Regions from separate parts of the Homo sapiens genome. Here region 1 is linked to region 2. Evidence: fine-mapped expression QTL. A gene starts in region 2. The other region holds a variant in brackets. All regions are shown on one strand. Distances are from middle to middle. Region 1 overlaps KPNA1 (karyopherin subunit alpha 1). Region 2 holds the start of WDR5B-DT (WDR5B divergent transcript).

Region 1 (8,536 bases), 26 kb after region 2:
TCTTGAACTCCCGACCTCATGTGATCCACCTACCTCAGCCTCCCAAAGTGCTGGGATTACAGGCAGGAGCCACCACGCTCGGCCAGGTATTTCTTTATAGCAATGAAATAACAGACTAATATAAACCCTAAGTCACCAAAATAAATTTGCAACTACTTAAGAGTAAATATTTTTAAAAGAAATCATAAAGCAGAATATTAGAAAATAGCTGACTTGGGGATGGTAAAAGACTGTATGTATGAGCATAAAAATAAAGAAATTATAGGGGAAAATAAAAATTTCATGAAACATGTTTTCATGTCAAAAATCGTAACAGATTTTAAATGTACACCATCCACTGTGAAAAATATTTGCAACAAATGAGAGGGTTGCTATGTGTAAACTGAAAAGAGAAACTAAAATTTTAATAGAAAATTATCTCCTAAGTAATGAAAGAAATGCAAATTAAAATGAAGTCTTTTATGCCTATTAAATAGGCAATAGGATTTCATTAGCAAAAAGAGGGACTGACACTGCACATAAGCTAGAAATGAAAAAATGCAGAGACAAGCTATTACAAAGTACTGTAAGAACAGACTACTGAGGCTATTTTATTTTAAGAAACATAGTCTCGTTCTATCACTAAGGCTGGAGTGTGGTGGCATGATCATAGCTCACTGCAACCTCAAACTCCTGGGTGCAAGCAATCCTCCTGCCTCAGCCTCCTGAGTAGAGTAGGTAGGACTACAGTTACATTCCATCATGCTCAGCTAATTAAAAAAAAATGTTTTTAGAGATGGGGTCTTGCTATATTGCATGGGCTGGTTTGGAACTCCTGGGCTCAGGCAATTCTCTCACCTCAGCCTCTCAAAAAGCTAGGAATACAAGCATGAGCCAGCATACCTGGCCATGATGAGGCTATTACAAAAGAGTTCTATGCCCCAAAAATAATAGGCTAGAAAGAAGAATGAGACTAAAATCTTAAGGAGAAATTCCTTTGAATCTTTCAAGTTTCTTTATCTTACAGGCACTAAAGCAGCTTATTATTTCTAGAGGAAGATAATGCAAATAACATTACTTTAGGAAAGATTCAGCTGTTATTAGGGGGAATAAATTGAGAAGAGTAACTGCTTAGGACAGTCGGAGGATGGATGGGTACAGCAACAACCTGTGTGTGTGACAAGGACCAAAAGTACGTAATTTGATGGGGATCTAGTAACAATAACAATCAAGAAGACCCAGCAACTTGCTATACAAACTATAAGGGAGGGAGACACCACATGTAACTGCAAAGTTTCATGTGTAGGTAAAGAGAATAGTTATATCATTACCTGAAATAGGAAAAATAAAAACTTGGAACTTGCCTTGTGGGGGAAAGAAGATATACTGTGAGACAAACGTGAGATATGCAAGCAGAAATATGTAAGAAACTACTGCAGATATAGGACTGAAACTTGAGATAGGTCAGAAGTAGATGTAGAGATTCAGAACTTCATTGCATTCAATAAATATTCTTTAAGTCCCTATATATTGTGCCAGAAATTATTAGATTTACAGAGGCACAGAAATAAACACTGACATAATCCACCTCTAGAATCTTAAAATCTAGTAATTAGTTACAATACAATGTGATTAATATTCTGATGGATAAAGAAAAAAAAATAAGTACCTAACTTAAGAGTTTAGGGTCAAACAGGGCTTCTCAGAGAAAATAATGTTAATACCAAGACTTGAAGAACAAGAAAACATTAGGAGCAGAGAATGTGGATATGTGTGAGGTGGCAGTCAGAGCAAGGGGTAGCAGTGGAGACACATGTTCCAGGCAGAGGGAATAAAGCATGCGTTAAAACTCTGAGCTGAGAGTGGCCACAGCCAATTCAAGGAACAAATATGGCAAAAGCATACAGCATATGGAGGTGGGTGAGGGACAGAAAGATACTGATAGGGTTCAAAAATTCAGAGGGTATAAAAGACTCCATAGTTGTTAAAAGCCTCTTTCCCCTTCTTGTATCCCAGCCAACCAGTTCCCCTCAAAGACAACCAACATTTTCAGTTCCCTGTATATCCTTCCAGAGAAATTTTATGCAAATATAGTCAAACATATATTCTTTTCTTCTCCTATTCTCTTCTGAAGTGTCTGAACTAAGCCCTGCAAAGGATGAATAGAGACAGAACAACAGGACTTAGTAACTGATGATGGAGTTGGAGGAGAGGAAAGAATCAAGCTGATGTCCAGGTTTCAGGGGAACTGATGGTGCCATTCACTGATACAGGGAACATAAGCAGAGGTTCAGGTAATGCAAGGGGAAATGAGTTCCCTTGTGTACAGAATATATTTAAAGTAAATACATTACAGTTAGAAGACACCTGAGAGAACAAATCTAATCTCCTTAATTTTAGAGATTAGAAAAGGCATTAAATGTATTGCTGAAAGTCAGAACTGGTGAAGAAAACGCTAAGGCTAAAACCCAATTCCCAATTCTGAATCCATGCACACAAGGGTAATCACTGACATTATAAATAAGATCTATGAATGAGGCAGAAGGATTGCCCCGTGGAAGATGTCCACAAAAGGAGACAAGAGGAAAAGGAGCTTGCTAGGGAGAAATAAATGGTCGATGAGGCAGAAGAACTAAAAGACTTCAACATCACAACACAGCTGAGATTTCAGGAAGAAATATGGCTAGAACAATGCACTGTGAATGGTGTGTCTTGATACAGAAGTTGAATAGAGTAGATGGTGACATTAGAAAGTAGGAGGGAAGAATCTTCCTCACACAGGGGACTTACCATGTACAAAAGGAGAAAGCTATCAGAGAAGGTGATATTGAGATGAAAAAGACAGAGAAAAGATGCTACTAGAGGATTCTGATGCCCATGAGAACTATTTCAAATAGGAGTGAAGAAAAACAAATCTGCCTGACCAAAAAATAGTCACTATCATAGGACAACCCCAAACTACTACAAGCAACAGGTCAAGTCAGAGATACTAAAGGTATTGAGAGTAGATGCCTAAACCAACTTTTTTTTTTTTCTTTGAGCTGGAGTCTCACTCTGTTGCCCAGGCTGGAGTGCAGTGGTGCGATCTCGGCTCACTGCAACCTCTACCTCCTGGGTTCAAGCGATTCTTCTACCTCAGCCTCCAAGTAGCTGGAACTACAGGCGTGTGCAACCACGCCCGGCTAATTTTTTGTATTTTTAGTAGAGATGAGGTTTCACCATGTTGCCCAGGCTGGTGTCGAACTCCTGAGCTCAGGCAATCCGTCCGCCTCAGTCTCCCAAAGTGCTGGGATTACAGGCGTGAGTGACCGCCCCCGGCCCAACATTTTTAAACATTAGTGTAACAGAGTATCAAGTTTCCCTAATAATATGGAGTAAAATACGATAATAGAAACATGATCATGAAGTTCAATATACTGTTTTTAAAGGACAAAAAAAAGTTACCACTTCTTCATACCTGTGTCTGAATATCATCCCCTGTGACAATGTTTCCCACAGCTCGCAAAGCAGGAGAAACCACTTTATAATCATTATGCCTGCAAAAACAAAAAGTAATGTTATAGCAAACAGTTCTATCCTTAGTTTCATTTCCTTCCAAGACCAAAATTAAAAAACAAAAAAATTGTGATAGAATTTTAGAGCAGAAATGTACCCATGGGGCTAATTAAGGGAACGCTTATCATGATGATGGAATGTCTGGTGTTCCCTAGAACTGTCTTTCCCCTTATTTTAGTACATTTGGAAAAAACTACCAATCTTTCCTAGGAATCTTTCCCAGGTATTCCATCACCTGGATTCCAACTTTTCCCTCTCATTCTTTAGTATAGGTTTCATTTCCTCTTTACTGGCTTTTGTATGGTTGCTGAGATAATTGAGAGCAATAATTAACATTTACGCAACATTTTTAAGTTTTATAAATTGTCTTAATTTTCAGAC[G/A]TAAAAGTGACACATCAACAGCTGAACTAACTTGAAAATGCAAGTCAGGAGTCACACTCTAAATACAAAGGTCTTTCAACTAAACTTACTAAATAAGCTGCCTTACTGGTCCAAAAACCACTCCACAAAGCCATATATATATATTTGAAGACAGATATTAAGTCCTTATTTCTAGCTAAATTAAGTCACTATCTTTTGATTTTCCTTAAGGGTCCTATTTTTCCCTCCACTTTAATGAGACCGATCACTCTTCTAAAAACTAAGCCAGTTCCTTCAAATTTAACATGTGATGATTAAAAAGAAATGGCTGGGTTCCGTTCCAAGATAGCTGAATAGGAACAGCTCTGGTCTGCAGCTCCCAGAGTGATCGACGCAGAAGACGGGTGATTTCTGCATCACCAACTGAGGTACCTGATTCATCTCACTGGGACTGGTTGGACAGTGGGTGCAGCCCACGGAGGGCAAGGTGAAGCATGACAGGGCGTCGCCTCACCCAGGAAGCACAATGGGTCGGGGGATTTTCCTTTCCTAGCCAAGGGAAGCTGTGACAGACTGTACATGGAAAATCAGTACACCCCGCCCAAACACTGTGCTTTTCCCACAGTCTTAGCAAATGGCAGACGAGGAGATTGCTCTCCCATGCCTGGCTCAGCGGGTCCCATGCCCATGCAGCCTTGCTCACTGCTAGCGCAGCAGCTGGAGATCGACCTGCAAGGCTGCAGCCTGGCGGGGGGAGGGGCGTCTGCCATTGCTGGGGCTTGAGTAGGTAAACAAAGCAGCCAGAAAGCTCGAAATGGGTGGATCCCACCGCACCTCAGCAAGGCCTACTATCTCTATACACTCCACCTCTGGGGGCAGGGCATAGGCTGAACAAAAGGCAGCAGACAACTTCTACAGATGTAAACGTCCCTGTCTGACAGCTCTGAAGAGAGCAGTGGTTCTCCCAGCATGGTGTTTGAGCTCTGAGAATGGACAGACTACCTCCTCAAGTGGGTCCCTGAACCCCGTGTAGCCTATTGGGGGAACCAGCCCCCAATATTTCAATGTAGGTTCTTTTCTATTTTCTCTAAGTGTTGGCCAGTCTAAGAAATAAAGAGAAAGAGTACAAAAGAGAGAAATTTTACACCTGAGTCTCCGGGGGTGACATCACATGTCGGCAGGTTCCGTGATGCTCCCAAGCCACAAAACCAGCAATATTTTATTAGCGATTTTCAAAGGGGAGGGAGTGTACGAATAGGGTGTGGGTCACAGAGATCACATGCTTCAAAAGGCAATAAAATATCACAAGGAAAATGGGGGCAGAGCAAGATCACAAGGCCAGGGTGAGATTAGAACTGCTGATGAGGTTTCATGTCCCACTGTACACCCATTGTCACTGATAAACATCTTAACAAGAAACAGTGTTTTCTAGAGCAGAAAACCGGTCTGACTAGAATTCGCCAGGCTGGAATTTCCTAATCCTAGCAAGCCTGAGGGCACTGAAGGAGACCAGGGCGTATTTTATGCCTTATCTTCAACTGCAAAAGACAGACACTCCCAGAGCGGCCATTTTAGAGGCCGCCCCCTGGGAATGCATTCTTTTCCCAGGGCTGTTCCTTGCTGAGAAAAAGAACTGAGCGCTATTTCTCCTATTCGCTTTTGCAAGAAGAGAAATATGATTCTGTTCTGCCCAGCCCCGCAGGCAGTCAGACCTTATGGTTATCTCCCTTGTTCCCTGAAAATCACTGTTATCTTGTTCTTTTAGAATGCCCAGATTTCATACTGTTCAAACACACCTTTCACAAACAATTTGTACACATAATGCAATCATCACAGGACCCTGAGGCAACATACATCCTCAGCTTATGAAGATGACAGGATTAAGAGATTAAAGACAGGCATAGGAAATTATAAGAGTATTGACTGGGGAAGTGATAAATGTCCATGAAATCTTCACGATTTATGTTCAGAGACTGCAGTAGACACGCGTAAGAAATTATAAAAGTATTAATTTGGGGAACTAATAAATGTCCATGAAATCTTTACAATTTATGTCCTTCTGCCATGGCTTCAGCCGGTCCTTCCATTCAGGGTCCCTGACTTCCTGCCTAACTGGGAGACACCTCCAAGTAGGGGCCGAGAGACACCTCATACAGGCGGGTGCCCCTCTGGGACGAAGCTTCCAGAGAAAATATCAGGCAGCAATATTTGCTGTTCTGCAATATTTGCTGTTCTGTGGCCTCTGCTGGTAATCCAGGAAAACAGGGTCTGGAGTGGACCTCCAGCAAACTCCAACAGACCTGCAGCTGAGGGAACTGACTGTTAGAAGGAAAACGAATAAGCAGAAAGGAATAGCATCAACATCAACAAAAAGGACACCCACACCAAAACCTCATCTGTAGGTCACCAATATCGAAGACCAAAGGTAGATAAAACCACAAAGATGGGGAGAAACCAGAGCAGAAAAGCTGAAAATTCTAAAAACCAGAGCGCCTGTTTTCCTCCAAAAGATCGCAGCTTCTCGCCAGCAACAGAACAAAGCTGGACGGAGAATAACTTTGACGAGTTGACAGAAGTAGGCTTCAGAAGGTCGGTAATAACTAACTTCTCTGGGCTAAAGGAGCATGTTCTAACCCATTGCAAGGAAGCTAAAAACCTTGAACAAAGGTTAGACCAACGGCTAACTAGAATAAACAGTGTAGAGAAGAGCTTAAAAGACCTGATGGAGCTGAAAACCATGGCACAAGAACTTCGTGACGTATGCACAAGCTTCAATAGCCGATTCAATCAAGTGGAAGAAAGGATATCAGTGACTGAAGATCAAATTAATGAAATAAAGTGTGAAGACAAGATTAGAGAAAAAAGAGTAAAAAGAAGAGTTTTCAAAAGAGTTTTCAACCAAGAATGTCATATCCAGCCAAACTAAGCTTCATAAGTGAAGGAGAAATAAAATCCTTTACAGACAAGCAAATGCTGACAGAGTTTGTCACCACCAGGCCTGCCTTGCAAGAGCTCCTGAAGGAAGCACTAAACATGGAAAGGAACAACCGGTACCAGCCACTGCAAAAACATGCCAAATTGTAAAGACCATCAATGCTGGGAAGAAACTGCATCAGTTAACGGGCAAATTAACCAGCTAACATCATAATGATAAAATGAAATTCACACATAACAATAATAACCTTAATTGTAAATGGGTTAAATGCCCCAATTAAAAGACACAGACTGGCAAATTGGATAAAGAGTCAAGACCCATCAGTGTGCTATATTCAGGAGACCCATCTCACGTGCAGAGACACACATAGGCTCAAAATAAAGGGATGGAGGAAGATGTACAAAGCACATGGAAAGCAAAAAAAAAGCAGGGGTTGCAATCCTAGTCTCTGATAAAACAAACTTTAAACCAACAAAGATCAAAAGAGACAAAGAAAGCCATTACATAATGGTAAAGGGATCAATTCAACAAGAAGAGCTAACTATCCTAAATATATATGCACCCAATACAGGAGCACCCAGATTCATAAACCAAGTCCTTGGAGACCTACAAAGAGACTTACACTCCCACGCAATAATAATGGGAGACTTTAACACCCCACTGTCAATATTAGACAGATCAACACGACAGAAGGTTAACAAGGATATCCAGGACTTGAACTCAGCTCTGCACCAAGTGGACCTAATAAACATCTACAGAACTCTCCACCCCAAATCAACAAAATATACACTCTTCTCAGCACCACATTGTACTTATTCTAAAACTGACCACATAATTGGAAGTAAAACACTGCTCAGCAAATGTAAAAGAACAGAAATCACAACAAACTGTCTTTCAGACCAGAGTGCAATCAAATTAGAACTCAGGATTAAGAAACTCACTCAAAACCGCACAACTACATGGAAACTGAACAACCTGATCCTGAATGACTACTGGGTAAATAACGAAATGAAGGCAGAAATAAAGATGTTCTTTGAAACCAATGAAAACAAAGACACAACATACCAGAATCTCTGGGACACATTTAAAGCAGTGTGTAGAGGGAAATTTATAGCACTAAATGCCCACAAGAGAAAGCAGGAAAGATCTAAAATCAACACCCAACATCACCATTAAAAGAACTAGAGAAGCAAGAGCAAACAAATTCAAAAGTTAGCAGAAGGCAAGAAATAACTAAGATCAGAGCAGAACTGAAAGAGATACAGACACAAAAAACCCTTCAAAAAAATAAATGAATCCAGGAGCTGGTGTTTTGAAAAGATCAACAAAATTGATAGACCGCTAGCAAGACTAATAAAGAAAAGAGAAAAGAATCAAATAGATGCAATAAAAAATGATAAAGGGGATATCACCACCGATCCCACAGAAATACAAACTACCATCAGAGAATACTATCAACACCTCTACACAAATAAACTAGAAAATCTAGAAGAAATGGATACATTCCTGGACACATACACCCTCCCAAGACTAAACCAGGAAGAAGTTGAATCCTTGAATAGACCAATAACAGGCTCTGAAATTGAGGCAGTAATTAATAGCCTACCAACCAAAAAAAGCCCAGGACCAGATGGATTCACAGCCAAGTTCTACCAGAGGTACAAAGAGGAGCTGGTACCATTCCTTCTGAAACTATTCCAATCAACA
Region 2 (8,000 bases):
CCCAGGCTTATGCACTTGTTCATCTGATCTCCCAAACCAGAAACCCTGGAATTATTTCAAATTCCCTTGCTCCCCTCTTTTAATCAATCATCCTGTCCTGTCAACTTTACTTCTAAATATTTCTCAAATACACTGATCCTCTAGGATAGTCACTGAGAGGAATGAGAAATTGTCCAGTGACAGACAAATGAAATTATTAATAGGCCTCAAGATTAGAAGTCAGTTTTCAAAGAAGACATACAAGTGGCCAACAAACACACACAAAAAAATGCTCAACATCACTAATCATCAGAGGAATACAAAATATAACCACAATGAGATACTCTCTTAAACCAGTTAGAATGGCTATTATTAAAAAGTCAAAAAATGGCTGGGTACAGTGGCTCATGCCTGTAATCCCAGCACTTTGGGAGGCCGAGGCAGGTGGATCACTTGAGGCCAGGAGTTCAAGACCAGCCTCGAACATGGTGAAACCCTGTCTCTACTAAAAATAGAAACATTAGCCAGGCATGGTGGCACGCCTGTAATCCTAGCTACCTGGGATGTTGAGACATGAGAACTGCTTGAACCCGGGAGGCAGAGGTTGCAGTGAGCCAAGATTGTGCCACTGCACTCCAGCCTGGGCACCAGAGACTCTGTCTCAAAAAGAATCATGGCAAAGATGCAGAGTAAAGGCACAGCTTATACACTGTGGGGAGGAATGTACATTTTACAACCTCTGGAAAACAGTATGGAGATTTTCCAACTAAAAACTACCATTCGATCCAGCAATCCCACTAGTAGGTATCTACCCAAAGGAAATTATATTTTAAAATCACCTGCACTGTTTATCGCAGCACTATTCATAATAGTGCTGTTTATCGCAGCACTATTCGTAATAGCAAAGTTATGGAACCAACCTAAGGGTCCATCAAGAGATGACTGGATAAAGAAAATGTGGTGTATATACTTATATACATATCCAGATGACTGGATAATGTGGTGTATATACTTATATACATACACATACACATATATGCATACACACACACACATACACACCACAGAATACTACTCAGCCAAAAAAAAATAATGAAATCTTATCTTTTGCAACAACATGGATGGACCTGGAGGCCATTAAGTGAAGTAATGATACAGAAAGTCAAAAACCACATGTTCTCGTAAGTGGGAGATAAACAATGTGTACACCTGGACGTGGAGAGCAGAATCATAGACACTAGAGCCTTCAAAGGTGGGAGTGGGGTGAGAGATGGGAAAGTATTTACTAGGTACAATGTATACTATTTGGGTGAGGGTATACTAAGCCCAGATTTCACCACTATGCAATATATCCCTGTAATAAAAGTGACATAAATCCATAAAAATTACAAAAAGTTGCTCAAAAAAGATTGGTAGTCAGAAGCTGAATTCTAGATGTGCTTTTTCAACTATCTCATTTTGTAAATGTAGTGTATGAATCTCAAAATTTAACAATAGACAATTTTTAAAATACCAAACTGCCAAAATTAAAAGAAACCGTCTTTTTAAATATCCAAGTTTTTTGGCCAACTTGGCTCTACTACTTGATTTTCAAAGGGATTAGTGGTTACTCATCCACAGTTTAATTGTTTTGTCATTTTCTAATGCTGCTGATGCGATGAGGTTTTCTGTAGGATGACAAGCTGCTGAGATCACAACATCTGTATGGCCTTGTAATTTCTGCACAATCTCTTTAGTCTGAAGGTTCCAAATGTAAACCAGGTTATCCTCGGAACCAGACACAATCCACTTTCCACCAGTAACTGAAAAATTGGCAAATATGCAATATTTCTCATTCTTATGACCAGTGTATGTTTTCAGGCACCTGCCTCTGCTATAATCCCATAGTTTAAGAGTGTTGTCCAAAGTTGCAGTGAGAATGTATTTACCATTTGGAGAAAATTTTACAAAAGAGACAGGAGGGTTATCGTCATCAACGAGCGTTTTTAAACACTGACCTGATGCAGCATCCCAGATTCTACAGAGGCCATCATAGCTACCTGACACTATCAAGGACCCACTACAATTAAAATGAACAGCAGAAACTGGGTCAGAATGAGCAGACAAAGTCTTGAGACACTTTCCTGTTTTCACCTCCCATATTTTTACAGTCTCATCAAAAGATCCCGAGATTATAAGGTTGGATGGCGGATTGAAGTTACAACAAAAGACATAATTACTGTGCCCCTTCAGTGTTTTCAAACATTTTCCAGATCTCACATCCCATAATTTTAGAGTTTTATCATCTGAGGCAGAAACAAGACGACTGGAATCTGATGACCAGGCAACATCCGATATTTCCAAATTATGACCATAGAGTGTTTTCTCATATTTTCCATCATATGCTCCCCAAATTATGATTAGCCTATCAGCAGAAGAACTTGCTAGCCATTCTCCATTAGGACTAAACTTAACTGATGACACTGCTTCCGTGTGTCCCACAAGAGTACATTTGAGAGCATAGTTTGGGTTTTCAGGCACTTCCTTGCTCTGATTGGCCGATGAGGAGAGGGCCAACTGTGCTTTGGCGTCTCTTGACTCCTTGGTTGCCATGGCTCTGAAGCTCCAAGTTAGCAGGTGTACTAGGCGTTCAGCCCTGAACCAGGCAGTCCAGTACTTTGGCTTTCTGCCCAGCAAAATGAAGATAAACGCACAGGATTTTAAAATGTACAGTTTTGAAAGCTTAAAGTTTCTGGACAGTCTTTAAACTGTGAGACGGAATCAGCAGCACGGCTTGGACTTCAAGTTTTCATCTTTTTGTTAAGTACTTGAGAAATACTGTTAGAAGGATCCTGTGCGCTGTCAGCAAGTAGGACACAAATGTTCGGCATTCCGTTAATACATAAAGCCTTCAAAGCAGGGGCGACGCGAGGGGCACTCTCTACAGAAAGTATTCTTTCACCGCCGCCCCCCTCCCCAGGTCGAAATGTTTCGGAATGCTGAGCAGCCCTACCAGTCAGGCTAGGTACTTGAAGATGAATGAACCGCCGCTTTTAGCGGATTTCAGAAGCTAAAAGCCTACGAAGCCACCGAAACTGGAAACTCTGGCCTGTCGGCTACTTTTGCTCGTACCAGCAGGTGTGCACTGCCGCGTCAATCTCCAACAAAGCCGGAAAAGCAGCCTGGCGCATGTGCAAAGGAAGTCCCTCCTACCACTACCGAGCCGAGATGACCAATGGGAGACGGCCATCTGCGCCTGCGCAAAAAAGTCGCCAATGTTCATTTCCGGTCTTTTTCGCCCCGCCCTTCAAATGCGAAAGCGACTGCCTTCTTGGGTGAGTGCATTAGCTGGGTAGGGTCTGTCCCGGACCTAACTGGATAGTGTGGGAAGCAGTGGATCGTTGTTTCAAAAACCATTTCTTTTTGGAAATTGTCACAGAGAAGGACTAGATTTGCGGATGCCTACCTTAGCTGCAGGCTTAGGCCCACACCTGACGCGTAAGCTGCCTAAACGGCAGCTAACGTAGATCCACCCAGACGCCGGAAACGGGGGAAGCTCCTGCTTTGCATGGGTTCCGCTCCCTCCTGTTTGTTGTGGTGTGGAGCCAGGTGGCATGTGTGGCGATGGAGTCACGGGGCGGGTGACAGAATTTATGCCAGATTGTAAAATTCCTGGTTTAAGTTTCCCCTGGAAAAGTTTCGTAAAGGTTAAGAAACGTGTCTGTTGAGGTCCTTTAAAAGCCGGTGCTCTGCTGGGAGTAACGAGCAAACGTTTGTTTTAGCATCTACGGCTTAAGCTTCCATAGAGAAGTCGGTATCTCAAAGTTGCTTGAAACAGAAAAGGACAAAGAGGTTGGTGGAATAGGGTAACGGATAAGGTTACTCTTAAGGAGGTTTTAGAGAGCTTTCCCCAGTTTTAGGAGATGATTAATGGTCATGAAAGTGTGTAAAATATACATGCTATTGAAGTTGCAACGAAAGACATAATTACTGTGCCCCTTTAGTGTTTTCAAACATTTTCCAGATCTCACATCCTATAATTTTAGAGTTTTATCATCTGAGGCAGAAACAAGACGACTGGAATCTGATGACCAGGCAGACTTTTAAACAATAGGTTTACCAAAAAACTGGAAGCCCTACTAGTTTCTCCAACCTGTTGTTGCTCAGTAAAGAGTGCCCGAGGCCGAGCACTCACGCCTGTAATCCCAGCACTTTGGGAGGCCCAGTCGGGCGGGACACTTTAGGTCGGGTGTCCGAGACCAGCCTGACCAACATGGCGCAACCAATACTGCTAAAAATACAAAAATTAGCTGCGCGTGATGGCGCACGCCTGTAGTCCCAGCTACTCAGGAGGCTGAGGTGGGAGAATGGCATGAACCAGGAGGTGGAGGGTGCAGTAAGCTGAGATTCCACCAGTGCACTCCAGCCTGGGCAACAGTGAGACTCCGTCTCAAAAAAAAAAAAAAAAAGAGTGCCCAAGAAAAGCAGAAAAAACGTGGCTTAAAAGATTTTACTGGTGGCTGGTCACGATGCAAATGTCTCATCAGCGTCAAGAATTTAAAAGCACTTGGAAACAATGGGTATCCTATTGTATACTTATTAGGGATAATTGAAAGTCTTGGCCTTTATAAGGCACAACAGGCACCGTTAGGTCACCTGTAATAAACCGACTGTAGTTAAAATATCATTACTTTAAGACCCTACCAGTCTAGGGGGAAATTTAAATAAGAATTGGACAAATACTTTAGTCTTAGCTAGTGCATATTAACTGTATAAACACAGTGAGGTAGTCCTGAGAATGAAGACTCTAAAATGGTTTAGAGTATTTATTTCTATACATTAAATTACAACGGTTTTTAGCTATTAAGGTCTCCATGGACCTCCCCTTGTTAACACTTTTAGAAATTTTTTTTCCTTCAGCATATCTTAAAGTTCAGTTCTAACTAAACCCTGCTGCTGCTTTTCTCTTCCCATTAGCCTGGATTAGTGATTTTTGCTGAGAAGTTTAGAAACTGCACCAATTGAAAACTATTTCCATTTTTATTAACTCAATAAAAGGTAACGTAAAAGCCCCTTGGAGCACAGGAGCAGAATTTAATCATTGTTTCAAATAATTTAAATCTGCATTTTCCAGTAACTGTTGTATGCACTAGAAGAGTAAAATTTAAGAATCGTGAACACTTGACATGAAGGCTAGGATAGGGTATTAGTGCTGGAATATATTTAGCCCACCACAGCTATCACAAGCAAGAGAGAGGGGGGGACACAATAAAGGATGTGTTGATAGGAAGATCCGGAAGTTATTTTTCTTCAGATTTTCCTAAAATCTGAAGAAATTCCTATTAACAAAATCCATTTCTTGATGTCTGGGATTTGTTTACAAATAGCATTAGGAACATATGCAAACAAAATCAAGGCTATGAATATAACTAGTTTTTTTTTTTTTTGAGACAGAGTTTCGCTCTTGTTGCCCAGGCTGGAGTGCAGTGGCGCGATCTCAGCTCACTGCAATCTCCATCTCCCTGGTTCAAGCGATTCTCCTGCCTCAGCCTCCCGGGTAACTGGGATTACAGGCATGCGCCACCATGCCCGGCTAATTTTGTATTTTTAGTAGAGTCAGGGTTTCTCCATGTTGGCCAGGCTGGTCTTGAACTCCCGACCTCAGGTGATCCGCCCGCCTCGGCCTCCCAAAGTGCTGGGATTACAAGCGTGAGCCACCGCGCCTGGCGAATATAACTAGTTATGTTCTATTGTTTATTCATTCATGTTCTGATATTAACATGTAGTCCTAACATTGTAGTCCTTAGGAAATTAGAACTAAGATTTTCAGTTTACTTGCTTGGGAGGATCAGCGACATTTCGGTGCAGGAGCACGGAATACTGATACAGGTAAATCCGAAGTGGCAGAACAGAGATTTGCATTTTGGGTTCCTTATTTATTCATTTATGAGACGGAGTTTTGCTGAATACTGATACATGTAGGTAAATCCAAAGTGGCAGAATAAGAGATACGCATTTTGGGTTTCTTATTTACTTATTAATTTATTTATGAGACGGAGTTTTGCCCTTGTCGCCCAGGCTGGAGTGCAGTGGTGCCATCTCAGTTCACTGCAGCGTTGCCAGGGCTCAGGCGATCCTCCCACCTCAGCCTCCCACAGGCACCCGCCACCATGCCCGGCTACTTTTTAAAATACCTTGTTGGCTGGGCACTATGGCTCACGCCTGTAATCCCAGCACTTTGCGAGGCCGAGGCGGGTGGATCACCTGAGGTCAGGAGTTCTAGACCAGCCTGGCCAACATGGTGAAGCCCCTTCTCAACTAAAAATACAAAAATTAGCCGGGCGTGGTGGCAGGCGCCTGTAATCCCAGCTACTCAGGGGGCTGAGGCAGGAGAATCGCTTGAACCCAGGAGGCGGAGGTTGCAGTGAGCCGAGATTGTGCCATCACACTCTAGCCTGAGGGACAAGAGCGAGACTTCATCTCAAAAAAAAAAAAAACAACAACAACCCTTTGTAGAGACAGAGTTTCACTACATTGCCCGGGTTGACCAAGCAAAATTTCTTACATGGTCTCATTAACAGTTTCTATTTCTGCTGCCCTTAATCTTTACCATCTAAGTGCTTTGGAAGTTTCCTCCCTACAGAAATCAACTAGATTTCTTTAAATTTCCCAGACATCTTAGAAATGAAGGCCGGGCGCGGTGGCTCACGCCTGTAATCCCAGCACTTTGGGAGGCCGAGGCGGGTGGATCATGAGGTCAAGAGATCGAGACCATCCTGGCTAACAAGGTGAAACCCCGTCTCTACTAAAAATACAAAAAATTAGCCGGGCGCGGTGGCGGGCGCCTGTAGTCCCAGCTACTCGGGAGGCTGAGGCAGGAGAATGGCGTGAACCCGGGAAGCGGAGCTTGCAGTGAGCCGAGATTGCGCCACTGCAGTCCGCAGTCCGGCCTGGGCGACAGAGCGAGACTCCGTCTCAAAAAAAAAAAAAAAAAAAAAAAAAAAAAAGAAATGAAAGTCTCTTATCTTAATATAGTTTAAAGGTGTGTTTCCCTTGCCCCTCAGTATTGTAAATATCTAAACAGATGTGTTGCCACAAATGGGGCAATTTTTAAATTTAAAAACAATTTTTTTTTTGTATGTGTGCTGGACCAAACCGTGGCATGGGAGTGATTCCCACATTAAGGAATGTCTCAACATCCTTCATAGCAATTCTTGACTACCAAATCCAGTCTCAATATCAAGCATTAATAGAACTATGTATACCTAGTTGCTTAAGACCATTAGCCAATGTATGAAAATCTAGTTGGGCTTTATAAATATGGAGTGGCCACGTAACATTATCTAAACTGGGACATTTTTAAAAGTGAAAGGGGGCAGTAAAATAATTCACAGGTGTTAGCTGATCTCCAAATGTAAACTGGGGCTGTGCCCAGCAGACACTACTTTTGACTTCCCAAGAGGACACTCCTCATAATCGTAACTTAATCTTGCAACCATTTCACACTCTGGTAGTTTACACCTCAGCCTGCGCAGGTCTCTCCCAAACCTGGTACTGTTCTCTCACCACCCATTACGGTCTTTTGCGTTTCTGTTTTCTCCTTACCCATCACTGTATCTTAATAATGCCCAGCCCAAGTGATGGGTAAAGCAGTGATCCTTATTGAGGACTCCCAGCGGACTACATTGGCCTTCTGCAGGTTAAGTGGATATGAATAAGAATGAGTAATTTTACTTTCTGCAAAAAAACACAGAAATGACTGTATATTAATTTAAAATTAGAGAAAACAATGACTCCTTCAAAATGCAAGTGAAATGGGGCAACAATCATTCAAGCTATCTTTAATAAACTTGTAAACCCAGTGATTTTTTTTTTTTTTTTTTTTTTTTTTTTTGAGATGGAGTCTTGCTCTGTCAGCCAGGTTGGAGTGCAGTGGTGCAATCTTGGCTCACTGCAACCTCCACCTCCCGGATTCAAGCGATTCTCCTGCCTCGACTTCTTGAGTAGCTGGGATTGCAAGCTTGTGGTACGATGGCTGGCTA

The links.
Region 1: its variant is fine-mapped to the expression of WDR5B-DT in whole blood (TOPMed, PIP above 0.99). The same link has a PIP of 0.9 or more in T cells, blood mononuclear cells, lung and nasal epithelium.

The regions. Positions count from the first base shown.
Region 1 is chr3:122,438,602-122,447,137 of GRCh38, forward strand. KPNA1 (karyopherin subunit alpha 1) reads right to left here. Exons shown (of 14, transcript NM_002264.4): 10 at 3,437-3,515. WDR5B-DT (WDR5B divergent transcript) reads left to right here. Exons shown (of 3, transcript NR_125405.1): 3 at 4,126-4,646. Among named protein-coding and RNA genes, the nearest start is that of WDR5B-DT, 27 kb to the left of the region's middle. The variant G/A (reference allele first, on the strand shown) is at 3,916.
Region 2 is chr3:122,412,958-122,420,957 of GRCh38, forward strand. It overlaps WDR5B-DT (WDR5B divergent transcript), which reads left to right and starts at 3,249. Exons shown (of 3, transcript NR_125405.1): 1 at 3,249-3,293. WDR5B (WD repeat domain 5B) reads right to left here and starts at 3,105. Exons shown (of 1, transcript NM_019069.4): 1 at 1-3,105. The coding sequence starts at 2,571. The coding sequence ends at 1,579. RefSeq lists enhancers at 2,650-2,849, 3,085-3,902, 3,120-3,359, 3,390-3,439, 3,600-3,799 and 1 more.